Linked DNA regions of Homo sapiens. The protein of the gene in region 3 purifies or fractionates together with the protein of the main gene of each other region. This does not show direct contact. Each region holds a gene or a part of one and is shown on either strand. Other genes may lie near its edges. The genes, in order: PPM1G, PPM1B, CERKL and ANKHD1.

The links.
Region 1: the proteins of CERKL (region 3) and PPM1G purify together in Homo sapiens (affinity purification with mass spectrometry; 2 studies listed by BioGRID and IntAct, with this or other methods). This does not show direct contact.
Region 2: the proteins of CERKL (region 3) and PPM1B purify together in Homo sapiens (co-immunoprecipitation; 3 studies listed by BioGRID and IntAct, with this or other methods). This does not show direct contact.
Region 4: the proteins of CERKL (region 3) and ANKHD1 purify together in Homo sapiens (affinity purification with mass spectrometry, with the first as the bait; 2 studies listed by BioGRID). This does not show direct contact.

What each region holds. Positions count from the first base shown.
Region 1 is NC_000002.12:27,406,229-27,415,242, reverse strand, and holds the start of PPM1G (protein phosphatase 1G), read left to right. Parts: upstream 1-5,651; 5' UTR 5,652-5,820; coding exon 5,821-5,940; intron 5,941-9,014.
Region 2 is NC_000002.12:44,163,666-44,172,338, forward strand, and holds the start of PPM1B (protein phosphatase 1B), read left to right. Parts: upstream 1-5,209; 5' UTR 5,210-5,609; intron 5,610-8,673.
Region 3 is NC_000002.12:181,653,744-181,661,763, reverse strand, and holds the start of CERKL (ceramide kinase-like protein), read left to right. Parts: upstream 1-4,658; 5' UTR 4,659-4,757; coding exon 4,758-4,995; intron 4,996-8,020. UniProt on the Homo sapiens protein: Has no detectable ceramide-kinase activity. Overexpression of CERKL protects cells from apoptosis in oxidative stress conditions.
Region 4 is NC_000005.10:140,537,117-140,540,716, reverse strand, and holds the end of ANKHD1 (ankyrin repeat and KH domain-containing protein 1), read right to left. Parts: intron 3,329-3,600; coding exon 3,128-3,328; intron 2,632-3,127; coding exon 2,456-2,631; intron 1,799-2,455; coding exon 1,634-1,798; intron 1,359-1,633; coding exon 1,299-1,358; 3' UTR 868-1,298; downstream 1-867. Other genes in the region: ANKHD1-EIF4EBP3 protein, read right to left, coding at 1,634-1,798, 2,456-2,631, 3,128-3,328. UniProt on the Homo sapiens protein: May play a role as a scaffolding protein that may be associated with the abnormal phenotype of leukemia cells. Isoform 2 may possess an antiapoptotic effect and protect cells during normal cell survival through its regulation of caspases.

The DNA.
Region 1 (9,014 bases), about 150 Mb from region 3:
AGAACTAGCCCAGAATCCCAGAAATAGACTCTCCCTCTTCGTTTTTAGTACCTTCAAAATATTTGAATTCCTTCTTTCTTAGCCCTAAATCTTGTCCCTGAGATTATTTTTTTCCTCTCTGGATCAATCTTTCACCTTTAATCACAACCAAGAAGGAATATGGTATCAAAACTGCTTAGTTTTTAAAGGTATCATTTCATGAATAGTATAATATTGATGTATATGAATCACATGTATATGAAGAAAGGGTCAAAAACAATGAGATCCAGGCACAGCAGCATGCACCTACTCAGGAGGCTGAGGTGGGAGGATTGTCTGAGCCCAGGAGTTTGAGGCCAACCTGGGTAACATAGGAAGACAACATAAATTTATAATATTTAATATAAATACAAGCATATTGGCATATTTTGGATGATCTAGATTAACACTTTTTTGAGTGATCTTCAGTTCACATTCAAATTTACAATTGAACTGATGTCACATTATACTCTAAAGTTAGAGCATTTAATATATATATATATATTTTTTTGAGATGGAGTCTTGCTCTGTGGCCCAGGCTGGAGTGTAATGGCGGGATCTCAGCTCACTGCAACCTCCGCCTCCCAGGTTCAAGCGATTCTCCTGCCTCAGCCTCCCAAGTAGCTGGGATTACAGGCGCCTGCCTCCACGCCCACCTAATTTTTGTATTTTTAGTAGAGGCAGAGTTTCACCATATTGGCCAGGCTGGTGTCGAACTCCTGACCTCAGATGATCCGGCCGCCTCAGCCTTCCAAAGTGCTGGGGTTACAAGTGTGAGCCACCACGCCCATCCACATTTAACCTTTAAGGCAATGTCTCCCAGGCTGGCAACATTCCCAGAGATCTATAATTACATGCCTCAGGGTTCATAATTTCTTTTTTTTTTTTTTTTTTGAGACGGAGTTTTGCACTGTCACCCAGACTGGAGTGCAGTGGCGCAATCTCGGCTCACTGCAACTTCTGCCTCCCAGATTCAAGTGATTCTCCTGCCTCAGCCTCCCAAGTAGCTGGAATTACAGGCATGTTGCCACCATACCCTGCTAATTTTGTAGTTCTAGTAGAGACAGGGTTTCTTTTTTTTTTCTGAGACAAAGTCTCGCTCTGTTGCCCAGGCTGGAGTGCCATGGCACGATCTCAGCTCACTGCAACCACTGCCTCCTGGGTTGAAGCGATTCTCCTGCCCCAACCTCCCAAGTAGCTGGGATTACAGGTGTGTGTCACCACGCCCAGCTGATTTTTGTATTTTTAGTAGAGACGGGGTTTCACCACGTTGGTCAGGCTGATCTCGAACTCCTGACCTCGTGATCTGCCCGCCTCAGCCTCCCAAAGTGCCGGGATTACAGGCGTGAACCACCGTGCCCGGCCAGACGGGGTTTCACCATACTGGTCAAGCTGGTCTTGAACTCTTGACCTCAGGTGATCCACCCACCTCAGTCTCTCAAAGTGCTGGGATTACATGTGTGAGCCACCATGCCTGCCATAAAAACCCTTTTTTCATGTGGACTAACACCTCAAGTACATGTTCAGGAGCTGGCTCTATTACCATGTCTGATTAGCCAGATTTTTGCAGCTCATACTTTAAAGACAGACTCAGCATTATCAATCGATCTATGAATATAGTATTGCGTTTTGGGTGTTTTTTTTTTTTTTTTTTTTTTTTTTAGACAGAGTCTTGCTCTGTCACCCAGGCTGGAGTACAGTGGCGCGATCTCGGCTCACTGCAAGCTCCGCCTCCTGGGTTCATGCCATTCTCCTGCCTCAGCCTCCCGAATAGCTGGGACTACAGGCGCCCACCATCACGCCCGGCTAATTTTTTGTATTTTTTAGTAGAGACAGGGCTTCACCATGTTAGCCAGGATGGTCTCGATCTCCTGACCTCGTGATCCACCCGCCTCGGCCTCCCAAAGTGCTGGGATTACAGGCGTGAGCCACTGCGCCCGGCCTTTTTTTAAAATTTTTTTTCTTTCTCCCTTCTAGTCAAAGCATGAAACCTTTACGTCACTGGAAATATACTGTAGTGACTTTGAGGGGAATAGGATGGTGAGGGGATAATCTTCATACTCTTTCTCCTTTTTCACCTCTTTCCATGATCCCCCTTAGTATCTATCTCCCCTCTCTGTAACATTATTGCTCTCCCAGTGCGTTACTTTTTCCTTGAGTCATATTGTGTGTGTGCGTGTGTGTGTTTATATAGTATTTTTAGTAGAGAGAGGGTTTCACCATGTTGGCCAGGCTGGTCTCGGACTATTGACCTTAAGTGATCCGCCTGCCTCAGCCTCCCAAAGTGCTGGGATTACGGGCGTGAGCCACTGTGCCCAGCCTCGAGTTATATTTTCTTTTCCACTTTTTTTCTTGTCTGTTTTTTTCCCATTTATTTTCAGGCCACCTCCTATTTTTTGTGAACACAATTAAATGTGGCTTCCATTCCATATTTAGCGTGTATGTATGGACACTTAAACAGCAGTCTTTTGTTGAATAATATACAACATTTATGGATAACTCAGCACTTTACATTCAATTCCTCTTATCCTTAAAGCAGTCTTGAAGAGTAGATGCTGTATGTCTGTCTTGCAGATGAACTTAGCCTAAGAGGGAATAAGTAACTTGTGAAAGATCTCATAGGTAATATGTGGCAAAATTCATGCTCTTTAAACAATGTCACATTCCATTCTTAGGAAAAAACAAAGTCCAAAAAGAAAAAAAAAAAGAAAGAAAAAAAAGAAGGCGGGCATAGTGGCACATGTCTGTGGTCCTGGCTATTTGGGAGGCTAAAGTGGAAGGATTGCTTGAGCCCAGAAGTTCAAGACCAGCCTCAGCAACATAGCAAGACCTCATTTCTTAGAAGAAGGAGGAAGAGGAGGAGCAGAAGGAGAAGAAAGAAGAGGCTGAGTAATTTTTGTTGTTGCTGTTTTGTTCATTTGTTTGTTTTTTGAGACAGGGTCTCACTCTGTCGCCCAGGCTGGAGTGCAGTGACACCATCTCAGCTCACTGCAACCAAGGCTGAGTAATTTTATATGCTCCCTCTACACTGCTTTGGTCAGAGATCTCATCTAGGTTCCTGGCAACCTGCAAGCCTAATTAACATCTTTTCCACTTTCATGGCTTAACTCCAATCTAATATTTTCAATGTTTTTATATTAGTTGTCACCCTAAACTGAACCACTGTTTTCCCCCCAAAACTAGCATCCCCTCAAACTGCACCTTTTTCTGTTAATGGCTCCACCACATTTTGTTATGCAGAGTCAAAATCTTGGTGTTATTCATTCATTCAACAAATATTTAAATATTATTCAGCACATACAACTTTGCAAGGGATGCTGGAAAACACAATGGTAAGTTTAATGGAACTTCTGCCTTCATAAAGGCTTATATTCTATCAGGAAAGACAAACAAGTGTGGACCCAAACTAGTATAGTGATAGTAGAGATTTCCTGGAGAAAGTGATGGTCAAGAGGGGTGTGGAGAGGTGTGCTCCATGGGTAAAAGTGTAAGAGAAAGCATGGCTTTAGATGCACCCAAAGACATTGCTGAAGCAGAGTTGTAGGAGAAATGGAGAGTTAAAGAGAGGCATACGTGAATCTGGATGATTAGCATGAAGGGTCTTGTAAACTATAAGGAATTTGGACTATCGGAAGAGCATGAAGAAGCCATGATTAGTTTTATCTTTTTAAAGAATCTTTTTTTTTTTTTTGAGACGGAGTTGCTCTGTCACCCAGGGTGGAGTGCAGTGGCGCCATCTTGGTTCACTGCAACCTCCGCCTCTGGGGTTCAAGCTATTCGCCTGCCTTAGCCTCCCAAGTAGCTGGGATTACAGGAGCGCACCACTACGCCTGGCTAATTTTTGTATTTTTAGTAGAGACGGGTTTCACATGTTGGCCAGGCTGGTCTCGAACTTCTGGCCTCAAGTGATCCACCACCCCCCCTTGGCCTCCCAAAGTGCTGGGATTACAAGTGTGAGCCACTGTGCCCGGCTGAAAAGAATCAATTTTGTCATAGTTTGGAGAATTTCTCCTTTTCTCTCCATCCCTTGAATGCAATTTATTACCAAATCTGTCTTATTTGTTATTGTCTAATTTGTCCTTTCATCTGGATTCCCATTGCCACCCTGCGTGGTACCACCTTACTCCCAGCTCTTCTCATCTCCTGCTTAGAGTAAGAGCTCTCTAACTAGTAGCAGTGCCCCAGGCCAGGCGCGGTGGCTCACGCCTGTAATCCCAGCACTTTGGGAGGCTGAGGCGGGTAGATCACGAGGTCAGGAGTTCGAGACCAGCCTGGCCAACATGGTGAAACCCCGTCTCTACTAAAAATACAAAAATTAGCCAGGCGTGGAATCCTAGCTACTCGGGAGGCTGAGGCAGGAGAATCGCTTGAACCTGGGAGGCGGAGGTTGCAGTGAGCCAAGATAGCGCCACTGCACTGCAGCCTGGGCAACAAGAGCGAAACTCTGTCTTAAAAAAAAAACAATAGTAGGCGGGGTGCGGTGGCTCACGCCTGTAATCCCAACACTTTGGGAGGCCGAGGCGGGCGGATCACGAGGTCAGGAGATGGAGACCATCCTGGCTAACACGGTGAAACCTCGTCTCTACTAAAAATACAAAAAATTAGCCAGGCGTGGTGGCGGGCGCCTGTAGTCCCAGCTACTCGGGAGGCTGAGGCAGGAGAATGGCGTGAACCCGGGAGGCGGAGCTTGTAGCCTGGGCGACAGAGCGAGACTCTGTCTCAAAAACAAACAAAAAACAACAACACAACAGTGCCCCAGACTCTCTCCCTCCAATGTACACTGCATACAAAGACTAGACAAACGATGCCAAAGGTTACACCAGGACGACAATGAAGTCCAAGTCACTCATCTTGGCGCTTCTTTTTATCAAGCTAGCTAGTTAATATTACCACTTACAATCATTCTCCGAGTCCAGCCAGCTTCCTCAGAAATCCTCCCCAAATGCAGTTCACATTCTTCCCTCACTCCTCCAAACCTTATAACATTATTCCCTTTTCCTGTGGCATAATGCAATCCAGAGGCATCCTCTCTGAGAGCCTACATCCTTTCAATCCTCCAAGAAACAGCTCCTCCTCCCATCCTTGAGCTTTTCCCACCCAGAATAGGCTGTACCAAACATTTCTACATTGTATTAACTCGAATTATATCACAGATCGAGGTCTTCGCTTTCAGAAAAGACTCACATTCTTCTCATATAGGCCTCGCATGGCCTGGCCAAGTACTTCCTAAGCTCGGAACAAATACTGGTCAACTTTAATTGAACCAAATCGGGCGGGGTTTGCGGAGTCTGAGAGTGCAACGTTGGGGAGAGGGGGATGAAAACACTGGAGGACGGGCTGAAAGCGTCGAGTCCGACACAAAAGAGGCGTCAGACAAAACGCCAAGAGGCTGGGGACTGGGAACGAAGGAAGAGGTTCTGCCAGAGGCGACCTGCCACCTGCGCGAGGAAGCGGAGTAGGACGGCGGCCGTTGGTGGGCGTGGTCGCGCTAGTCTCGCGGGAGCGGCCGTTGGGCGGGCCGTTGTCCCTGCGGGCGGGGCGAGTTGCTAAGGAAATGACTGCCCGCAGCGCCTGGCCCCGCCGCGCAGGCCGGGCGGGGTCTGGAGCGGCGCCGTTTCCGCTTCCGCTCCCTCACAGCTCCCGTCCCGTTACCGCCTCCTGGCCGGCCTCGCGCCTTTCACCGGCACCTTGCGTCGGTCGCGCCGCGGGGCCTGCTCCTGCCGCGCGCACCCCCGGGGCTTCGGCTCCGGCACGGGTCGCGCCCAGCTTTCCTGCACCTGAGGCCGCCGGCCAGCCGCCGCCATGGGTGCCTACCTCTCCCAGCCCAACACGGTGAAGTGCTCCGGGGACGGGGTCGGCGCCCCGCGCCTGCCGCTGCCCTACGGCTTCTCCGCCATGCAAGGCTGGCGCGTCTCCATGGAGGTGAGGAGGCAGGGGCCCATAGGCTGGCCGCTGCGGGGCGGGAATCTGACGGAGAAAGAGAGCGGGGGATGGGGTCCTCCCCTGGGAAGGGTCCCAATTGGGAGCCTGCGGCCGCAGCGGCCGTTTGCGGGGCGACAGAGACCGCGGGGTCAGGGCCGAGAGGGAGCTCCCGATGCTTGGGGACCGTGTGCCGGTGGCCAGTGGCGGCGAGGGCTCGGCCATGTGGGAAGAGGCACCTTCCGCCCACTGACCGCCCTCTCCCCGAGCTTTGGCGCCATCCTCTCGTGCCAACCTAGCCCTCCAGGCTCATCAACGGTGTGAGGTTTAGTGTGGGAGTAAAGACGCAAATAGGGGCTATTTATTCATTTGTTTTTCAAGGGAGAGGTGAATAGATGTGAATAACTTTTTAAATTTTAATATTTAAAATATCTGATGTGGGAAGCCTCTTTTGGCTAGGAGTTTGACAGTGAAAGGAACCCCGGGCAGAGTCTGTTTCACATTTTGGTTGCCTGGCCTTGGGCTCTTGCATGTTAATTTCAGAGGCTGGACCCGACCTCCAGGAGTTGTCACTCATTTGCACTCTTTTCAGGGCCTTTTACTAACTTCGGAAAACTTGAATTATGTCAGTCCCTAGGTTTTCCTTTTTATTATGCTTCGTTTTCTTTCTCTCTTAGGATTTCTCTAAAACTTAATCAGTAATTCTCATTTGCCTGTAATTGTAGTTTATAGTTTCTTTGATTGTAAGTCATTTCATCAATTTTTTTCATCACAACCTACCTACAAAGGGCTTTTCTAGAAAATTTTACTCTGGACAAAAGGGGAAAAGAAAAATATTGGGGGGAAAGTAGTAGTATTAGGTAAAACTTGATGTGAAACTACAAAAGAGAAGAGGGAAAACTGCGGTAGGGAGGAAAGGGAGGAAGACGGGTTAACCGTGGCTTTGTGAAGAGCATTCTGAAGTCTAGGCAAAAGGGCCAGGGAAATACTCTGTCTGGTATTGAGGGTTTCTCCACCTACCGGGTGGGCTTCAGGTAACAGCGAAATACTGTCTCCCTTGGGAATTGTTTCAGATCCCTCGCTCCTCCCTGTGGTTAGCTCTGGAATGACAGTATGAACTTAAATGTTTTGTTTTCCGATTCAAATTTTATATTCATAACTGACCTTAATAACAATTTTATAATTAGGTATAAAATTTCAGGATTGGAGTGTATCCTATAGTTCATCTCATCTGCTTTGGCTCCCTTTTTTTTTTTTTGAGACAGAATTTCGCTCTTGTTGCCCAGGCTGGAATGCAATGGCGCGATCTCGGCTCACCGCAACCTCCGCCTCCCAGGTTCGAGCAATTCTCCTGCCTCAGCCTCCCTAGTAGTTGGGATTACAGGCATGTGCCACCACGCCTGGCTTATTTTGTATTTTTAGTAGAGACAGGGTTTCTTCATGTGGGTCAGGCTGGTGTTGAACTCCTGACTTAGGTGATCTGCCTGCCTCGGTCTCCCAAAGTGCTAGGATTACAGGCATGAACCACCACACCCTGCGGCTCCCACATTTTATAGCTAAGAAATTGAGGCCCAGAAAGGTTAGGACACTGTTTTGGTGGAAAGAATTTGTAGGATCAGATCGTTGAAGACACTAGACATTGTTAATCATCTATGTCAAACTGAAGCATAGCATTCATATTTCACCACCATACACAGTATAACTATTTGGTAGATGTAATTGTCTATTAGAAATATCTAGGCTGGGCGCAGTGGCTCACGTCTGTAATCCCAGCATTTTGGGAGGCCGAGGCAGGCAGATCACCTGAGCTCAGGAGTTCGAGACCAGCCTGGGCAACATGGCAAAAACCCTGTCTCTACAAAAAATACAAAAAAATTAGCTGGGCATGGTGGCACCCACCTGTAGTCCCAGTTACTTGGGAGGCTGAGATAGAAAATCACTTTGAGCCTGAGAGGCAGAGCCTTCATTGAGCCAAGATCGCCCCTCTGCACTCCAATCTGGGTGACAGAGCGAGACGCTGTCTCAAAAAATAAATGAATAGGCCAGGCATGGTGGCTCATGCCTGTAATCCTAACACTTTGGGAGGCTGCGGCGGGCGGATTGCCTGAGCTTAGGAGTTCGAGACCAGCCTGGACAACATGAAGAAACCCCGTCTTTATTAAAATACAAAAAATTAGCTGAATGTGGTGGTGCGTGCCTATAATCATAGCTACTTGGAAGGCTGAGGCAGGAGAATCGCTTGAATCCCAGAGGCGGAGGTTGCAGTGAGCCAAGATCGTGCCACTGTACTCCAGCCTGGGCGACAGAGTGAGACACTGTCTCAAAAAAAAAAAAAAAAAGAATAAATAAATAAATCTGGGTATAGTTTCGTAGGAAAGTCTTTTTGTAAAGTAGGTAGTCAAGAAGTTCCATTTCCATGGCATTTTCTGTTAACGTTGTGAGATTTGAGGTGAATATTCCATCTCGCAGTAAAACGTTTCTTCCAGGTTTCTCATTTAATATTTTTCACTTCTCTGCTGTTGTTTTTTCATTTCTTTGGTACCCTTCTTTCTACTTTTACTTACGGATTGAGTTGCTTGGCTACTCAGTGTTTCACGTTGGTTTGCCCAGTGATTCCATACTATTTGCTGCTTCTCTGTAGGGCATTTCCCTTTATTTTTGGTTTCTCCTCAATTAGAAAATGATTTTTTTTGTCAGGGACGGTTTAGTGTGTAGAGATCTTACTAGACTATTCCTTACATCCTAATCTTCCTCCTGAGAGATAACTGCTTAGGGTATTAAAATCTTGCTAATGTGCTGTTTCTGAAGTTGCCCTTGTTTGAATAAATATGCCTAATCAATAGTTAAATATGCCTAATCAAATCCTCTTGAAGAGTATTGTTTGGGATCCTATTCTGCTTCATTGATAGTGTTCCTTCTGGCTTTTTTTCTCTTCAAAGTGTAGCATAGTTTCTTTGCTATTGCAAGAAAATAACTATGAGTTCTAGCCTCTTCCCTGAATCTTATCTTTCCAGAAAATATAAAGTACTCCCATTCCTCTGAAGCTTTAGGGCTTAATCCAAAAATTAATAAAGTTT
Region 2 (8,673 bases), about 140 Mb from region 3:
ACTTTATTGTAAAAAAAAAAATAACAAAATCAATGAATAATGTAAATGAATTTGGGCATAAATGCTAAACTGCTTACACAAATGGCTGTTATTAGAGTTTTCCACAGCCAAGCATATTTAAACATTTAGTAATGTTGCACCATTTATAGTTGGGCTCCATGTGAATAGTTTTCCTGATACCACCCACTGTGTTATAATCATAATCTCAATCATCTTATGTGTATGACACTCACTTTAAAACACAAAGGAGGATCTGGTTCTGAGGAAGCCAGTTTTGGCCTCCTAGGCTGTGGGGATTGCATGTAAGATGGTGATAGCTTGATCAACTTCCTCTCTAAGGAGGAAGCAGGGTTGGGGGACAGGCCCAGGCTTCAGGTCGTAGAACTGAGAAAAGGAAAAATGTCCAGCAAACTACTTGAGATCCTCCAAATGCAATTCAAGAAATACTTATCAAGCATCTATTGTGTATGATTTACAACAAAAGAAACGATGTCCTTGCTGAATTGGAGGTTATAGTCCACAGCAGGGGTACGACCTCCTCCATGCCTTTTTTTGGGCAAAGGGTCCCTTTGGTGAATCCTGTGGATTTCTTCTCAGAATAACATTTAAAAATACATAAAGCTCATTAAGATTATAAAGGAAAACCAATTATAATTAAAGACAGTTATGAAACAAGTACATTTGTGATATGCTTCTTTTTTTTTTTGAGACAGAGTCTCACTCTGTCACCCAGGCCAGAGTGCAATGGCATGGTCTCGGCTCACTGCAACCTCCGACTCCCAGGTTCAGGTGATTCTCCCGCCTCAGCCTCCCGAGTAGCTGGGACTACAGGCACGTGCCTCCACACCTGGCTAATTTTTGTATTTAGTAGAGACGGGGTTTCACTAGGTTGGCCAGGCTGGTCTCAAACTCCTGACCTCGTGATCCACCCGCCTCAGCCTCCCAAAGTGCTGGGATTACAGGCATGAGCCACCACGCCCAGCCTATGCTTCTTTATTAATGCATGAAATAACAAGATCTAGTGATGAGTATAATAATTATAATAATTTCAAAAGAGTGGTGAGTATAAATGACATCTAAAGAGATTGTGATGCTTGGTAAAGACTGGGAATCTCTGCTCTAAGCAACTTGTGACCTCGCAGTTCCCTGATTGTTTGGGCTCCCTTGCAGCTAGGGGTGATCATGTGATTTCCTCACCCAACTTTTTCTACATTACATTTAATATTGTTTTTATTTAAAACTATATATTGGGGAATGATTTGCATTACTAAGAGACTCTAAAACTCTTCATGTGGCTCTGGAGAAAGATGTTACGATTCCCATTTTGCAGAACAAACCAAGGCTCAGATAGCTTAGTTACTAGCTCAAGTCACACAGCTAGTTCGTAGCAGAGCACATTATGATGGTACTCAGGGTTTATGACACATTATGTTTATGATGGTAAACAGCAGTTTTCAAAGTTGTGACTCTTGTTGGGCTTTCTTTAATGGTTTAGTATTTTAAGCAAATAAAGCATACAACAAAGTTAACCTTCAAATCTGTTCTGGGGTGTCTCCATACTTTTTTTTTTTTTGCTCTTGGTGATTGAAAGTATGAATGATATGGAATTATCAGCCCACCTAAATGACTGAGCTTTGTATTTGTTTTTGGGTCAACCAAGGGAAGGTGAGAAGGAAGTCAAGCAAGCCAAGAAACTGTTCTCATGCCTTTCTGTAGTTGCTTGTATTCACAGGACAAGGGTCCCTAAATGTCTTCAGTTTTTTATCCTTAGCATGGTTCCCATTTTAGAAGCTGAGGTCTCAGACTCCCTTCTGCTTACATAAGGGGTGTCAGGCAATGGAGTGTGATTAAAGAAAATTTAATTTTTTTATAAGTCACTTCAATAATACTTCCTGCGGACTGTATGATCTCACGCTGATAATAAAGGGGACAGTGGAAATGTGAGATATACATATGTTCTCCCAACATGCAAAAGTGAGGAAATTAATTTACTTTACATCTGCCTCCATTATCCTGTGCCAGAGGGTCTCAAACATTGATGCGCATAAAAATCATCTGCAGGTCAGGTGCGGTGGCTCACGCCTGTAATCCCAGCACTTTGGGAGGCTGAGGCGGGAGGATCACTTGAGGTCAGGAGTTTGTGACCAGCCTGACCAACATGGTGAAACCCCGTCTCTACTAAAAATACAAAAATTAGCCAGGCGTGGTGGTGGGTGCCTGCAATCCCAGCTACTCGGGAGGCTGAGGCAGGAGAATCACTTGAACCTGGGAGGCGGAGGTTGCACTGAACCGAGATTGCACTACTGCACTCCAGCCTGGGCGTCAGAGTGAGACTCCGTCTCAAAAAAAAAAAAAAAAAAATCATCTGGGGAGCTATTTTAAAATTCACCTTTCTGAGCCTTGTCCCCAGAGTCCCTGATTTGTAGGCATGAGTGGACCTGGGAATCTCTATCCCAGAATCCCAGATGATTCGGATGCTGGTGGTCTATTCACCATGCTGTAAGAAACACCATTCTCACACAAACTTGATGAGTAGGTTTTAAAAATCTGAATTGCAGAGGCGGAGCCGCCACCCTGCCGCGACTTTCAGTCTCCGACCATGGCCTCACGCTGGTGGCGGTGTGCCCGGCTCCCCCGGCCTTGCAGGGCCTCCAGGGCCGCGCGCCGCTGCCGGCGCCCGCGCTCAGGCTCATAGGCGGAAGGGATTCGGCTTGTCTCAGATACCCTATTTTAGTCTTGTGAAGCGCTTAACATCTGCCTGTCCAAATGTATACAGTATATCACGGTTTTATCACACAACCCCGGACAGTAAAACACACAGTGGTGAGAAATATACAGATCACCGATCCTTTCAAATTCGGTTGCAGAGACTTGAAAGGTCTGTATGAGGACATTAGAAAGGAACTGCTCATATCAACAACAGAACTTCAGGAAATGTCTGAGTACTACTTTGATGGAAAAGGAAAAGCCTTTCGACCAATTATTGGGGTGCTAATGGCCCGAGCATGTAATATCCATCATAACAACTCCCGATCCGATGTCCAATTTTCACAAGCTGATTGCTGAGAAGGTTCTAGGCGGCGTCTGTTAAAAAGCATTGCTGTCTGTTAATTTGACATGTGCAAGCCAGCCACCGCGCCATAGCCTTAATTGCAGAAATGATCCACACTGCTAGTCTGGTTCACGATGACGTTATTGACGATACAAGTTCTCGAAGAGGAAAACACACAGTTAATAAGATCTGGGGTGAAAAGAAGATACGGTTTTTTGGTTTTTTAAAATCTCTCTTACCGAATCACATGCTTTTTGGACCGCGTTTGCTTTTTCAGATTTGTCTTATTAAAAAGTAAAATATGCTTGCTCAAAAAACAAAAAAACCCGAATTGCAATTAAGTCTTTGTTTCTGCCGTCCTTATGACGGCCTGGACAATTGTCCTATTACTAAATTTGCCCTTTTCTATAAAACATTGACAGCCCCTAACCTGAATAGCACTCTGTTGGGTCTAAGCTTAAATTGTCTGCCCAAACCATTTTACACCAAAGTAGGAAATAGGTTTAAGTTCTTTTAGGACATTCGGATTAAAAAAAAAATATATATATATATATATATCCTAAGGTAAGTATTAGAATACCTCTATTACACTTTTGTTTCTCGTTTGGAGAATTAACATGGCAGCATCGTCTAATTTGATAGCTGGAGGAGTCATGTCCACTTTCCCCATCGGCCTGTTAAACCCCTATCATTCATTCTTGACTCATCCTGTGTCTTTGTGAAGCCTTTCTTGGTAAACCTATGCACAAGGAAGACCCTTTATGTCGTCACCAGCCCTTGTGCATGTTTCAATTGTAGTACCTATCATCTTGTACTGCGATTGCCTAATTTATTTTTGTATCTCCAGTTCTACATACAGTACCTGGCAAACAGTAGGCGCTCAATAACTGCGAAATGAACAAGTCCATGTCAAGAGACTAGGCTGGGAGTTTTAATATCAATGCCGACTGAGAAACAAAATACGGAAATGTCAAGGGCTGGTATAAAAATAATCTCTAATAGCACAAAATCCTCCTGAAGGGAACACCTGTCCCACTTTCTCACGTTGCTTTCCAGGTTCTTCCGACACCCCAATTTCCCGCCCACTCTTCTCCCTCCGGGGTACAGGTCAGGCAGGTATCCCAGCTCGGCGGCTCTGATAGGTCGGCGATGATTTCATTGTTAGGGAACATCCGGGCCTTTCCCCTCCCCGCAACACCTCCCCAGAGCCCGGCCTTCCCAGTTTCCCACTCTCGCCTGCGCCCCACCCGCGGCTGAAGCAAAACAACCGCCTCTCCCCTGCCCACTTCTTGTCCTCGTCTGAGTCGTCCCTTCCCGTCTCCACGCCGAAGAGAGGCGTTTAGATCCTCCAATGAGGGCCTAGGAGGACTTTCTTAGCCAATCAGTAGCCAAGCCCCTGCAATTCCGGGTGGGACCAGGCGTCCACACCTATAGCTGGACTGCTCGTTGGTCCCTTATGGCGCTTCTTTTACGCGAGGCTTAGAGGTCAAATACAAGGGGGCACGGTCCTCACAGAACGGAAAGGATCCGTACAGACTCTCCGGGTTTGACCGTTTTCTAGGACGAACCAATCGCTTTCCAGATACTTCCCCGCCTTTTGCGCGTTCATTTGAAAAAAGCCGGTGTGACGGACTTGGAAATTGGCTCAGTGACTGACCCGCAAGAAAGCCAGTGACTGGGGGTTCGGATCACGAGTTGGACCAATAAGAAAAGACAATCGCTGGGGCCGGGGCTTTGCTAGGAGGAGCGCAGGTGGGCGTTATTTGATTGACGGAGGGCTCTACTTATGGCTGGTAGCGGGGGCTGGTCCCTGACGTTCGGGAGGTAGGACCTAGCGGAGGCGGGGCCGAATAAAGTAAATGGTAATAAAGGGTTGGGTCTCACTTAGTGGGCGGTGTTTGATGGACAGCTGACCTTGCCTATTGAAAGTAGCCACTGATGCCCAATGGGAAATTAGAAACCCAGAGGCGGGGCCGGGTGGGCGGGGTAAACGAAGTACGGAGGTGCCGAGGGAGCAGCACGGGGAGGGGGAGCGGTGATTGACAAGACTCCCAGCAAACCGGGGGCCGTGAGAGGGCGCGCGGCATCCCAGTGGGTGGCAGCTGGAGGCGGGGCACCCTGAGGGGCGGGGAAGGACTAGGGTGCGGGGAGGGGGTTGCAAAAGGAGCCGAGCGGCTTCTGCTCAATGGCGGAAAAGCCGCCGGTGCTCTGACGGCCTCGTTCCCCTAGCAGTTGCGGGGGAGTTTCCTGCCGGCGCGGCTGGAGTCTCTGATTCTCAGGGTTCGGTGGTTGGAAGATGCTCCAGAGAGACGAGGCTGCGGCGGAGGAGGTGGCGGCGGCCGAATCGGCAACGGCGCTAGGGTGGAGAGAAGGCGGCATCGGCGGCGGCGGCGGCGTGAGGGGCCGGGCGGTGTAAACAGCCCCGGAGGCGGCGGTCGAGACCCCGAGGGGGAAGCGGCGGCTGAGTCAGGGTCGCGCCTCCGTTGGAAACTTGGGCTGAGTACCGCGGCGGGCGCGAGCGAGGCGCCCTAGACATCTTCTCCCTCCCTTGCCTCAGGTAAGGCCGCCCGGCACCCCGCCGGAGGGGAAGCGGCTGACCGGCCGCGCCGCCGAGGCCCCGGGCCCTGGGCAGGTTTTCGCGGTGCTGCCGAGCCGCGGCCGGGGCCTCTGTCCTTCCGAATCCTCGCTGCTTTCCCTGCTGCCGCGGAGCCTAGGCAGGGGAACGCCGGGCCTGGCTCTCGGGTATAGGCCCCTTCCCCGGCCGCCGCCTCCGCTGGGCTGAGGTCTGGGAGAGGCGCAGGGAGAGAATGGGAGTTTGCTGGAACGCCTGGAAGCTGACTGATTCTCTCTTCCCTCCGCTTCAGTCTGCAAGCATCTCTTTCACACGAAAGCACTGGGGCTACCCCAAGCCTTGGCGCTTCTCTTCCTGGTGCATGCCCTGTTTGAAAACACTATCTTTTACCATTCGTTTCCTCATCAGCTTCTGCCCTACTCTGCGCTCCACTTCACTTCCTTGTTAAATCGTCTTTCTCTGCTGTCTATGCGTTCTACCCTCGCCTTCCCTCCTTAGTGGCTTTAAATTGTGTGTTTCTCTTTTCTTCGTACCCCGGCATCTCTTGCCTGTCTTCCCTAGCACCATCCTTTTCGGATGTCATTCCTAACAGTGAAGTTCTTAATTGAAACTGCCACTTATTGTCAGTACCCCAAATCTACCGGAGCCCCATTAAGAGTATAGACTGACTAGCCATATGTGGTAAATCAGTTTTTCATAGTTTAAGCCTAACAACCTTGAAAAAATTGTATTATTAAACGTAAAGTGTGAAAATAACACCGAAAATAATTTTTTAAATGAAGGACTCAGTGAGTGTTGGAAATAGTTATTTCTTCATTTTTTAAACTTGCATGACCTCTCATATCAGATTTAGCAGATCTGGGACGTTTGCCCATCTTATTCGGCAAAAAAAGTGCTTCTTAGGCGTTTGATAGCAGCCCAAATTCATCAATATTCAATTTCTTCTAAGAACAACTTGAAAACTTTTTTAAAAAGAGACGTTAATAACTGGGAAGTTGTTTTGATAGTCACAGTTAAAGAGCTTTTAAAATAGGCTCCACATGTTTAATGTATCAAAATAAAGTTGGCAGGCATGTTGTAAAAGGATTATTTAGGAATTTGAGTAGTCTTAGTGTTATGTAGCTATTTTAGGAAAAACATTCTTTTTCTGTTAACAAACGTTTACAACTACGGTGATGTGAGAATTACTGAGGCTTACTGTGGGATTAACACAGGAACTGTCTTTATTTGAGCTACTGCATGGATGAAGAAGTGGTAAATTGTTCAGAGTAGACAGTGTAAGTCACAGTATGTTCTAGGAGATGGAGAAACATGCCATGGACGCTGAATGTTAATAGATGTTATTTCATTTACTTTCTCTGTTGTGCAATAGCAAAGTTCCTATTGTTGGCCTACTTTTAAATGGGGCATTTCTAAGTAAATAGTGAGACAAGTTATTCTAATTATTATGATAGTCTTTTCCAAGTGTACAGGCCTTTTAAAAATATAGTTGAAGTAATGGTAATTTTTTAAGGAAATGTTTTTGTAGGTCTGCCAAATGGACAGTGTGTTGTTCTAATCGAAATTTTAAAATTAAGTATTTAGAACAGAATATTTTAGTCCACACATTTTCAGGGATAATCTTTATTTTGTGCTTCTTCTCTCAATGCCTTCTTTGTCTTTTTTTTTGTCTTAATGGTTGTTGTGTTTTCGCCTCTTCATTTGTTTTTGCTCTCATGAAGTCTTACAACAGTTTCTGCAGTGGTTCTTTTTGTTGCTGTATATTAGCACGAGTATTTTTATTTGAGCTTTCATACTGTAAGATTTCCCCAGTTTCTAGTACATTATCCTCTGGATTTGTTGAAGTGATTGTTCTCTTTGAAGTGACCAGCAGAGCTTTCAACACCGTTTTCTTACACTGGGTGTCTGATTTCTGTGAAGACTCTAGGAATAGGTGAAAGGCCTTTCAATTTAGTCATGTCAGTAAATACTGTTTTATGTTAGTAATTCACCTAATTACTAAATTCCTTAAGATTACATCATCTGAAGGAATAGTGTAGTGTCCAAGTAACTGTGCTTCTAAGAACAGCTGATTCACAGGTTGACAGGGTCAGAAAAAGTGGCTCTTGTTGAAAGTTATCTTTTCTATAACAAACATTTTTTATGGAATCTTTTGAATTAAAATATGATGCTGATTATGTCTTGGCAGTCTTGGAAGCTTAGAATTGGCCACGGTATCACTTAGTGATTGTGGTGATTCATTAAAAAGAGGCTATATAGGCCAGGTGCGGTGGCTCATGCCTGTAATCTCAGCACTTTGGGAGGCTGAGGCGTGTGGATCACTTGAGGTTAGGAGTTCATGACCAGCCTGGCCAACATGGTGAAACACCATCTCTACTGAAAATACAAAAATTAGCCAGGTGCGGTGGCGCGTGCTTGTAATCCCAGCTACTCAGGAGGATGAGGCAGGAGAATCACTTGGACTCACGAGGTGGAGGTTGCAGTGAGCCGAGATTGTGCCACTGCACTCTAGCCTGGGTGCCAGAGTAAGACTCTGTCTCAAAAAAAAAAAAAAAAAAAAAAAGCTGTATTTCATGAATATTTTTATATGTAACTATTTTAAAGTATTTTGTGACATTACCTAGCATAGAAAGTAGTTAAGTAGTATAATTCTAACTCTCGCTTTTAAAAATGCAACATACAGTATTTTATATTTTCTGTGAAATATGCCTTTCACAATTCACTGATTTTAGTAAAAATTAGCAAACAAATAACTGGTGGCATCAGAATAATAAAAGTTTGTTTAATCCAAAATTATAATAGCAAAATTTATTCAAGTAATAGCATAAAATGTGAAATCATGATTATGGTAAGATAATTTTCAGGAGTATGATATTCCTGAATTTTCAGTTATTCTTCACACTGTACCTGATTTCTTTTTGTTTTTCCCTTGCTGAATTAATTTCAGAATTGGAATGAAATGGAATACTGCTATTATATTAGCAGCTTTAAAGTTTTATTGTAAAATGTATCGTATATTAGCAGAATTGATGGTTAAGTGTACTGACAT
Region 3 (8,020 bases):
CATAATAGAAGTTTGGATTTTATTCTACCTGCAGTGAGAAGTTCTTAATAAAAAAAAAATTCTATAAACTGGAGTTTGAGAAAGAACTATGTTGATGATAGCATAAGCCCTCAATCACTTGTCACATAAACTCCAAACTTCAGCAGAGACTCAGGGAGATCAAAGGGACTACCACAGGATTACCCACTGGCTAAAATTCAGATCCATGGCAGTTGGTCCTGACTGGAATTAGACTTCCTTGTCTGTTGCCCTCATTGCAGTGGGTCTGAATGTCTCTGTCGGCTGTGAATTTTTCTCCCTCTATCTGTGGCACTGAGAAGGTGGCCCAGACTTCCAGAGTCTGTCTCATTGGCCTATTACTTGGGGATTTGCTGCCCTTCTTCTGGAAGTTTGGGTATTTGTTTTCAGAGCATACTTAAAGGCCTCCTGAAAGCAATGTTAACAATAGCAGGATATATTTTACAGTCTTCTACTCAGACTTGGATTTTTAAGAACCAGGGATGGAGACTGTGTTTCCAGATCTAGTCAAATCCCTTCCAAACATAAAGCAACAAAGTGCCTTTTAAACTAGGACCTGTACTGTTTAATGCTCTGGAAACAAATACCCAAGCTTCAGCCAAAGGAGGGAAAGCTATGTTCAGGAAGCTTCCTGAAAGTTTTTTGAAAGCAATTTTCATGCATTAGTATTTTACATATATATATATATATATATACACACACACACACACACACATATATATAAACATATATATATATACACATGAATCACTAATGAGACAATTGATCTTCAGGAACTAACGTGAAATAATTGGGGTATCTTGGTATTATTGTTATAGATAAATGTTGAAGAAGTTCATTCTTTCAGATATTAATTGAGCACTTACTGTGTACTAAGAACTGTGATAGATACTGGGGATTTAATGGTGAACAAGATAAATTCTCTGCCATCAGGGGGCTTATATTCTAACAAACTTAAAATTTACTGAGTGTTCTCTGTATTTCAGTATTGTTACTAAGTACACTAACTTAGTGGGGAAGCTAGACAATAAACAAAGAAGTATGTAATAAGAATTAATAGTAAGTGCTGTAAAGAATACTAAAGCAGGTTATGGTAGAGAGATTAATGGCAGCGTGAAGATGTCCATGTTTCAATCCCCAGAACCTGTGAATATGTTACCTTACATAGCAAAAGAGGCTTTGAAAACATAATTAAGGGTTATCTGGGCAGGCCCAATGTAATCATAAGAGTCCTTATCTAAGACGGGGGACAAAGGTCAAAGACAGAGGAAAAGAGACGATTTAAGGATAGAAGCAAAGAGGAGAGATGTTAGACTGCTGGCTTTGAAGTTGGAAAAAGTGAACATGAGCCAAAACAAACAAAACAGAACAAAACAAAATCCACAGGTGACCTTTAGAAAAGGGGTCCCCAGTCTCTGGGCCATGGACCAGTACCTGTCTGTGGCCTGTTTGGAACCAGGCTGCCCAGCAGGCGGTGAGTGGTGACTGGTGGACAAGCAAGTTTTACCACCTGAGCCCTGTCTCCTGTCAGGTCAGTGGCAGCATCAGATTCTCATAGCAGCCTGAATCCTACTGTGAACTGCACATGCAAGGGATCTAGTTTGTGCTCCTTATGAGAATCTAATGCCTCCAAAATGCTCACCCCTTCAAACTGCCCCCATCCGTGGAAAAACTGTCTTCCACAAAACCAGTCCCTGGTGCCAAAAAGGTTGGGGACTGCTGCTCTAGAAGCCAGAAAAGAGGAGATATATTTTCCTCTAGAGCCTACAGAAGGAATATATAGGCCTGCTGGCACCTTGATTTTAGTCCTGTGAAACTGATTTTGGATTTCTGACCTCCAGAAATGTAAAACAATGCATTGGTTTTGTTTCAAGTCACTAAATTTGTGGTAATTAGATACAGCAGCAGTAAGAAATGAATACACAGGTTTACAGGATGGTGAATTATGGAGGGTGCTCAGGAATGGCCTCTTTGAGGTGGTGGCCTTTAAACAGAAAAATGAGCAAAGTGAAAGAATGAACCATCTGGTGGGGAGAAAAGCATTCCAGTCAGAGGGAACAGCAAAAGCGAATGCTCTGAGAAGGGATTATTCTTCTCAATGTGTTTGAGGACTGGCAAGAAGGCTTTGTGTGAATGAGCAAGGGGAAAAAGTTAGTAGGTGATCTCGGAGACATAGCCAGGGTCCAGATTATAAAGGACCTCTCGCCTTGCTAAGCATTTTGACTTTATTCCAAGAATAATGGGAAGTCAATGGAAGGCTGTGAGCAGGGTTATATGCTCTCGTTATTTTTTAAAGGCACAATGTAACTCCAAAATGGAAAATTGGCTCTGGGCTGGAGGTGCCAGCACAGGGGAAACCGAAAGCAGAGAGCTGGGTTGGGAGAGCGGAGACTGAAGTTGTCCAGCTGAGGGGTGCAGAAGTGCAGACTGCAATGACAGCAGGCAGAAAGGACTATATGTTCTAGACAGAATGGACAGGATTTGCTGGTAGATTGGATTGAAGGCATGAGACAAAGGAGACATGGATGATATCAAGGATTTTGATACTACAGATTTGAAACATTCTGAGAGGGACAGGTTTGTGATGGAAAATCATGAGTCTGGTTTTAGATATGTTTTAGAAGCTTATTGGACAGCCAAGTAGAGATGTCAGGTAGGGAGCTGGACATAATACCTAAAGTTCAGGAGAGTGGTTGGAGCTGGTGACATCATTTGCAGAACCCTGGATGGTACATAAAGCACGGGACAGTGTGTGGATAGATCCTAAAGAGAGCCCTAGGGCACTCCAGCCCTGGAAGAAGGCAGCTTATCAAAGGAAAAAGAAAGAAAGAAGGAAACACAATCCTTATTACTTCCATCTTCAGGACAATTCAAAGCCAGTGTTTTTGACTTCCTGGCTTGAGTGAAGCTTGAAAAATGGCAACTTGCCCCTTTGCAAAGCTCCTAAGGAGTAGCCATTGGCTTGGCCTGTTTGCACTGGCTCTGGGTGAGCTTTTAAAATGCCAGTGAGCTCTAATTGTGTTGATTGCCTAACAGCTGTGAATACAAGATGCTGACTCCAGAACTGCAACTCATTCTGCGAAGGGCACCGTCCTTTTCCCTCTAATGACTGCTGAACAGAGCCACCTGAAGCCTGCATGGGGTTTAGCAGCAGCTGCACTTCTGCTCTAAGAAATAGCTCACTGCAGTCAGATCAAACTGAAGCTCTTCCTTGCTTTTCCTCGAAGCTTGGGTACTTATTGTCGGAGCATTAAACAGTAAGAGTCCTAGCTTAACTGGTGCACAGTGCTTTATGTTTGGTAGGGATTTGGTTAGGCCTACAAACCGTCTGAGCTAAGAACCTTGAGAAACTCCTGCTATAGTTAGCTCTTTCTGTGACTCTGCAGTGTGACCAGGAATGAGGACAGAATTAAGAATTTGCTGCCTCTATGATAGAACTGTTTAGGCACTAGAACACTGGAACTAGATCTACAACCCTATGAATTTAATTTCCTTTTCAACTCCCCTACTCCTTCTTTTCAATATGATGATAATGATCTTGTTTAAAAAAAAAAAAAGCCTTCTGCTTTACTTCCCACTCTGCTCCTCTTCCCAGGGACTCACTTTCTTCCTGACTGCTTCCCCATTACAAGTACTCAGCTCCCTGTTTTATCACCCTGCTTAGAGCAGCCATTATCAGCCTTGGCTGAACATTGGAATTACCTGGGAACTTTTAAAAATCCGGAAGTCTGGGTCTCGCCTCCAGAGATTCCAGCTTAGTTGTCTTGAGCGTGGCCTGGACATTTGGGTTTTCAAAAGTTCCCTATGTAACTTTAATGTGCAACCACAATTGAGAATCACTAGCCTCCAGACTCTCTGTGTTATCAAAATTAATGAGCAGCTGATTTTAGAAATCTCAGTTATCAGGAGAAAAGGGTGAACCCCCCCAGGGCTCTTCTCCTTTTCCAGGTGACACTTCTTTATGGCAGTGCGTGAAAGTGAAGCCCTGCTGCTTGTAATCTCCCTCAAGGGAGTGCAAGATCCAGGCAAAGACAAGACTGCAGAGGCGCTACCTTGGGGGAAAGTAGGACCCTAAATACTTACACCTGGAGGCACTTACCTTTAATACTGAATTTGTCAGATGCAAATTTGTCTATGCAAACCAGGGCCTTATCTCTAGCTTCCCCTCAGGGGTTTTGGGAAGTGCGCTACTACTCTGAAACAGGGTTGTAAAGCGTCACCTGTGCTCTCCAGGGAACCCTCTGGAAAGGAGGTGGAAAAACAGAGGCTTCCACCCTTGCAACTCTAAGTGTGTTCCTTGGCCAGTGGGATCCATCACCTAGTATTTTCTTAGATATGTGGTATCTGGGGGCCAGTCCCACACCTATGCAATAAGAATCTCCATTTGAACAAGATGCCCAAGCGATTATATGCAAGTTTAAGATTGAGGAGGGCTGGTTTAACTCGAGGGTAACGAAAAGTACGAAATCGTACTTTACAGGAGAAGCTAGGCGGAGGGAGCCACTTATTCTTCCTCTTGCAGCTGGGTCTTTTTGTGGTGAGTGGCGAAGCGGCGAGGCTGGCAGGCCAGGGTGCTGGACTGGGTCAGGCGCGGCCCCGCCTCCCTCCTGGGTCCCTGCCCTGCGCGCCGTTGCTGTGGCAGCGCTGGACGCGGCTAGAGCTGGGGCTGCCGCGCCCTCCACCTCCTTCTCCAAAGGCCTCCCCGGACCCCTGGCTCGGGCCCAGCCTGCGACTCCGCCATGCCCTGGAGGAGGCGCAGGAACCGGGTGAGTGCCCTGGAGGGCGGCCGGGAGGAAGAGGCGCCCCCGGAGGCTGCCGCTGTGCCTCCGGCGCTGTTAACGTCCCCGCAGCAGACGGAGGCGGCGGCCGAGCGGATTCTGCTCCGGGGCATCTTCGAGATCGGGAGGGACAGTTGTGACGTGGTGCTGAGCGAGCGAGCACTGCGGTGGCGGCCCATTCAGCCCGAGCGCCCGGCGGGTGAGTGCCCGGCCCCAAGCGTCTTCGCCTCCCTCCGCGCTTCCTCCCTCTCCCCGGCCCAAGGCCTACACCCACGAGCTTTTGCTCCACCCTCCCCTTTTCTCGCCTCCCCTCCCCGTGCTCGCCTCACTGCCCGGACAGGTTACCGAGTCCCCAAGTCGCCGCCTCCTCCTTCCCAACTGGGAACTCACGCCTCTCGCCCCATCCCAGAACCCCCAGGGATTCTTTCGCTACCTAGCCTTTTCCCGCCTCCGAGACCTTCCCCGGGCAAACGTCACAAGCAGCTTTTGCTCAGAGTCTCAGCAGAAAATCTTGAGCCCCAAAGGGGAGGTAATTTACAAATGTGAGAAGGTCAACTACTCCTCCCCTCCAAGTTGAAAAAGTTTTAATCCATTAACTTTGATGGTACATTGAAACTATAAACATCTCACAGATTATGCCTACACAAGAGTTCTGAATCCAACTCTCATTTTGCTGACTTGAAAATGTAACTCCAGAGCTTTGGGAGTGTTTCTGGGTTTTTTTCTGCCCCTCACCTTCCTTGCCATTGTCTAGAATTAAGACTTCTTCAGGCTCGGTCTAGAAACTTTTGATTTTTAATATTGACCCTAGATTATTGGATCACAGTTTTGCGATGCTTAGTTACGTCAAGCGGTTTGCTTAACGTTTGCCTTTTATTGACTTAAAATTTTAGTTACCTAAAAAAGTTATAATGCTGTAGTTTACAACAAATACTTCGAGTCTATTTTCACGTCTTAGTCAAATAGCCTTATAGACTTAACAGATATTTTATAAAGACCATTTTGCAAGTCTTATAAGTAGACTTTCATATAGTCTTATTTCTAAGTCCAAACTCGAGAAATACTCCCCATTGTTGAATTAGCTTAGATGTGAGCGGTGAAAGACAGATGAAATGGGGGAGGAACTACATCAAGGTTACTCTACTTGCGAGGAGATGACTTGGGGGAGATGGAATTTGGTATTCAACCTCTTTTAGCTAAATACAAATTTATGAAATTAAAAAAATTGCCTTCCCCTGTTGGAAAACAAGACACAGTGTGGTATTTATGTTACAGAATAGACTCACTGTCTTAAAGTCTTGCTCAAAAGTCTAACAAAATGAAACCAACTAGCCAGGGATTCAGCACTGGTTGCGATTGTGAATTCTGCCTGTGCTGCATGTGCCATGCTCGCTCGCTTCACGAAAACAGTCTTTGACCTTAAAGTGTTTTCAGGTGTTTTAAAAACCAAGGTGTAGTATTTTCTTGAACCTTTTAAGTTAAAAGCTAGGGATATAGCTATGGAATTATTTGTAAGTCTTTCAGGCAATTCGAGTTATGCAATATAGAAGTTTATAATTACAGTTTGGATTAGCCCAAAGAGCCAGTTTAACCTACAGTGCAGCTGAAATGCTATAGAATTAAAATGAGACATTGTGCAATGAGAGGTCATACAAACCAATGTTGCAGTATTTGTGTACAAAAAAAGCAAACAATGACATGAGAAAAGAAATGCTGTTTTATATTGAGTGGTGATTAAGGTAAAATAGGTTTAATTAGTGCACCCCTGGCAGTAGAGTTTAAAATACATCTTGACAGATTTGTAACTTTAAAGGTTGCAAGTACTGATTCTTTGTTTAATTATGCCCTAAAACCATTTGGTGGTCTTTTCCTTCATACAGGTGTACCCTTTTTCTTTGTAATTAATACCTGGTATTCAAACCACTTTGGGCCTCTAAAATTGGGGGCACAGAAGCCTAGAGCCTTAGTAAGTACTTCTGTTTATGGAAGAAACCAAGAGATGTTTTATTTAGGTAAAATATAGCCAGGCGTGGTGTGTCCCTGTAATCCCAGCTACTTGGGAGGCTGAGGCAGGTGAATTGCTTGAACCTGGGAGTTGGAGGTTGCTGTGAGCGGAGATCACACCACTGCACTCCAGCCTGGGCAACAAGAGTGAATCTCCATCTCAAAAAGCACAACAAACAAACAAAAACAAACACTGGGAAATAAGAAGGAGATATTAAGAGATGATATATTTAAATGTTAGAAATGCTCTGTTGTTGAATAAGCTTAGATGTGAGTGGTAAAAGATTAAATGGAAGAGGGAGCTACATCAAAGTTACTGTACTTGGGAGGACATGATATGGTAGGATGTGGTGGGGGGAGAGCATGTCCATTGCTGGTTGGCAAGTGACTGGCTGCCTCAGAAAAGGATGAGGGTGGGTAGGGGAGATCACTGGAGATTATTAGAACATACGTATGTTTTCAAGATTGCTTAGTTTTTAAACCTCATAGTACTTTGTTTTCACTGATGAAATAAAATACTATGTGATCTTTTTCTAATTTTCCATCTTGAGTAATAAGCAAAGACATTAATGTATTTTATGAAGGCTCTGACTGCCAAAATTGGGACAAATTGATGGTCTTGTTGGCAGGGTAAATGAGCATAACCGTAGTAATTGTAGTTCTTTTTATTGGGTTCAGGGATGACCTGGAATAATGGATGTGTTATTACCCTTCCCTGTAGAAGTGAGGCTTTCGAAAAGAGGCTATAAGTCAATTTGGGAGGCACAAAGTATCAGCGCTTTTTGGGGATTTTTTTTTTTTTTAAGTAGAGAAATATTTTAAATGTGTGATATAAAGTTATGCATGTGCTTCTTAAGCACATTAACTCAACCAGATCCAACAGCTGGTCTAATAACTTTTTAATTGTTTAAAAAAATTTAATTGACACATTGTAATTGTATATATTTATGAGATACTATTTGATGTTTTGATATTTACGTTGTACAATTATCCAATCAAAGTAGTTAGTTATCCTTCACCTCACACTTTCATTATTTCCTTGTGGGTTAGAACATTCAAAAGACTCTCTTCTAGTTATTTTGTAATATATAGTATTTTACTGTTAACCATAGTCACCATACTATGCAACAAAACACCAGAATTTATTCTTCCTACCTAGTTGTAACTTTGTGTCTTTTGACTAACCTCTCTCCATCCTTCCTTCTCCCCTCCCCTTCCCA
Region 4 (3,600 bases), on a different chromosome or scaffold from region 3:
TGCTGCTAATATAGTTCTGTCCCTAGTTACTACTCTTTCTCTGTGCATCCTTCTTTGCCTTGATATGAGTTTTGGCTTCTCCATCAGCTCCAAACATTTTCTTGTTTTCTTTTCTGTATTGCCTATACTGACCAGGAAAAATTCAGCTATATTAAAACACAAATAAGTTGATGACTATACTTTTCAGTGGGATAACTTTTCCTTCTCTATGCTGATTCTCGGCATAGCCTATGGTTTGGCCAAAGCAGCCCATTCCAGGGTTCCTCTGTTTAGCTTGTTAAACATATTGACTCTCCATGCTTAGGGCCATGGAACTAAGCCTGGAATTACTCACATATTTATAAATATTACTCAGCTGATTCAATAATACAACAGAATGACAGGAGTCACCTCCTTATGTCCCAACTCATATAAAGCTTAAAATATCTATAACCAGACAAATCTTTCAGATAAAAAAGGTCAGGAAGCACAGAAGGAACCTGAAGTTGATAATTTGGGTGTCCCTACATTTGTTTAGTGTCATCTGATTTAAATCCAATTGTTCTTATTGACATTCTCATGATCCATAGAGAAAAAACCTATCAGTGGCCTATCTGCTAGCTAAAGTCAGATAAGACACATTGCCAGAGCTTGAAACTTTCTCATATGTTAAAGGATTATGGAAGACAACAAGGGAACAAGGAATGTTTAACACAGAATAAATAGGTAAATAGTCTTAAAAGTGCTTTTTTAAGGCAGTCTAAGAAGGGACTCAAGTGTTAAATGTGAGAAGCCTGTTACAAATATAGTATTAACCATCTGGTTCAATATAATGTGGATTGAGTGGTACCTGCATGACCACTGAAAGGATCACACCCCACTTCTAAAGACTGTTCATCTTTTTATTGAATATTCTGGTAAATATTTCACATTAATACAGGCTACATTACGTAGAGCCACTATATGACAAGAAATTTACTCAACTTTTTCCTTTTAAGTATGTAAACAATTATACATGTATTTATCACCCTAAAAGGTTGAAACATGTAATCAACTAATTCTCTTCTGCATACAAGTAGTATTCTGTATGTTTAGCCAAAAGCACTAAGGTCATATGATCTTAAGTTCAAAATGGCTAAACTAACCAGAGAACATAATCAGGTGGATAGGAAATCAATTTGTTCTTATACAATGGGCAATCAAATTTCCATTGCTAAAGCCTCAGAGAAAATTTCTTAGGCACATTAAAAAAAAATCCCCATGGTTCTTCCAAGGTCATAGGTTTCTTAAACAAGGCTAAAGAGTAAAGACCTTCTAACTTAGTTGACATATTTGAGATGCATGTTTCCAATATGAGGTGCCCACGTGCCAGGCCAAATCTGAAAAGGGGGAGGAAAAATTGGAATTTCTAATTAGGAATCTTTAGACAGTTACAAAATGAATATATAAATGCAATGGCAATTCACTGTTTCTGCCTAGGAAGAATACACATATATTAAATAAAGTGTTCAGTAGCATCATCTTGATATTGAAAAAGCAATCCAGATCGAAATGGTCAATTATGACTTTTGATATTCAGTACTTATACTTCTCACAAAACAAAAAGAATGATGTGACAAATCTAAAAAACAAAAGAGCATTAAGCCCATTTTACCTGCTGGGCATCAGTGCATTCAGTTGAATTTTGGATAACTTTTATCATAGGGTTCCAAGCAGGATCTGGATTGTGAAGTCCATTAAACAGAGGGCCTCCTGGAACATCAGCAAGCTGAGGATGAGAGGGTATTATGGTGCCTCCATACATGGAAATTGGCAGACCCTAAAACAGCAGGAAAAAAGATTTAATCTTAAAATTACTATAAATTATAAAATTACTATAAATCCCATAATACCAGCTTAGACTTCTCTAATATTCCTCATTTAAAGAACTCCAAAAGATCCTATAAGTACAGTATGGCAGTGTTGAGAAAACAAAATGTTTATCTGCATCTGCAAAGCTTTTCAACAAAAAACAAGAGAGAGAAAGAAACTAAATCCAATATGAAATCATCAGGAAATTTCTCATATTTGATAAAAATAACCTCAACTTTCCCATATTTTAGTTTCATGAATAAGCTTGAGCTAAGAAGAAAATGGGAACTCTACATAATTGATTGCCGACATAAAGCTGTCAGAGCAGACAAGAAAGCATCAGTGAACTCATGGCCAGCTTTTAAGAGGGGTAGAGGCCTCCCTCAAAGCTGTAGTAGCAGAGCACAAAGTGGCAAAACCCAAATCCCTCAGGTGTTTTCGGGGGATGGGGACATCTTCAGGACAAACTACTGTGGACAACTCTGTGCACTCCTGAAATTAAGCAAAAGATCTAGCAAAGCCACAGAAACAAAAGGGAGCATTATTTCAATACAAGGTATTCCTTAATGTGACTACATTGGCTGACAAAGTGTCAATCAAGTTACAGTGATGTTTGTCAACTCACTTTAGAAAAATCCACAAAACCACTTGCCATAGGCTGATGAAAAATGTTAGAGGGGGCTACCATTCCAGAATCATCTCTCTCCATTGGCTGATGTTGGGAGAATGTGCTTGGGTCTGATAATTGTTGATGCATTGGATGGTTCCCCATCACAGATTGCGACCAACCTGATAAGCCTTCTGGAAAGAATAATTGAAAACAAAGTTTTAAATTTATTTGGATAAAACAACAAAACATTACCATTGTTATTACCAAACATGACCAAATGTTACTGAAATCTTTCCTCTGAAGAGCTCAAAGCGTATTTATCACAGTCTTGCTAGCCAAAAAAAACCAGTTCCTGAAAAACTAGGTAAAGTCCTCTGAATACTCCACTTTACCCTGTCTTTTAAAAGATTAAGTACTCTCTGAAAGAACTCAAATGATTATTTAAGAGAGAAAGGACACACACTTTGAATCTTTTGTTTCTGATTAACTCTATGTATTACCTCAACCAATATTCCAGACTCTGAAATTGGACTGAACTCCTCAAAGATATAAACACCCTTCCCTAATTGAGTGTTAAACATAGGAACTAAGTTTTTTTTGTTTGTTTTTTCTAAGGAACTAAGTTTTAATGGCAAACCTACAGCTTACTTAAGATATCCCTCCAGAGAGAGAGCAAGGCAATTGTACCTGACACAGCATTGACACCAAATGACCAGATTCCACTGTGTCCAACGGGAGCGACAAAACTGGTCCCCGCCGGGGCTTGTGCAACAGACCCTCCTTGCCGAATTCGGGCCAGTCTCTCTGTTCCAATTGGGGGAGGTATCTTTCGATCTTGACTGGCACTGACTCCTTTTGGTTGGCCCAACGTTGGTGGGGCAGAAGTGGCTGAAAGAGGTGAAGATGATCCCGAAGAAACAGATGGAATAGGAGAGTCACCTGGTGGCAAAATATTTCTCTATTGTTTTATTACATATAAAAAACTATAAGAATATGAGAAACCTTGTTGGAAAGATCTATTCCACAACATAAGTTCTGTAAAGAAAATTTTCATTTTAAAAGAACATTCAAATAAAACATAATTTCTATAGACATTATCCTACACGATTTCTGCCTATAATAAGTATACAACAGTCTAAAAAATGTTTTCCCAATTGAAC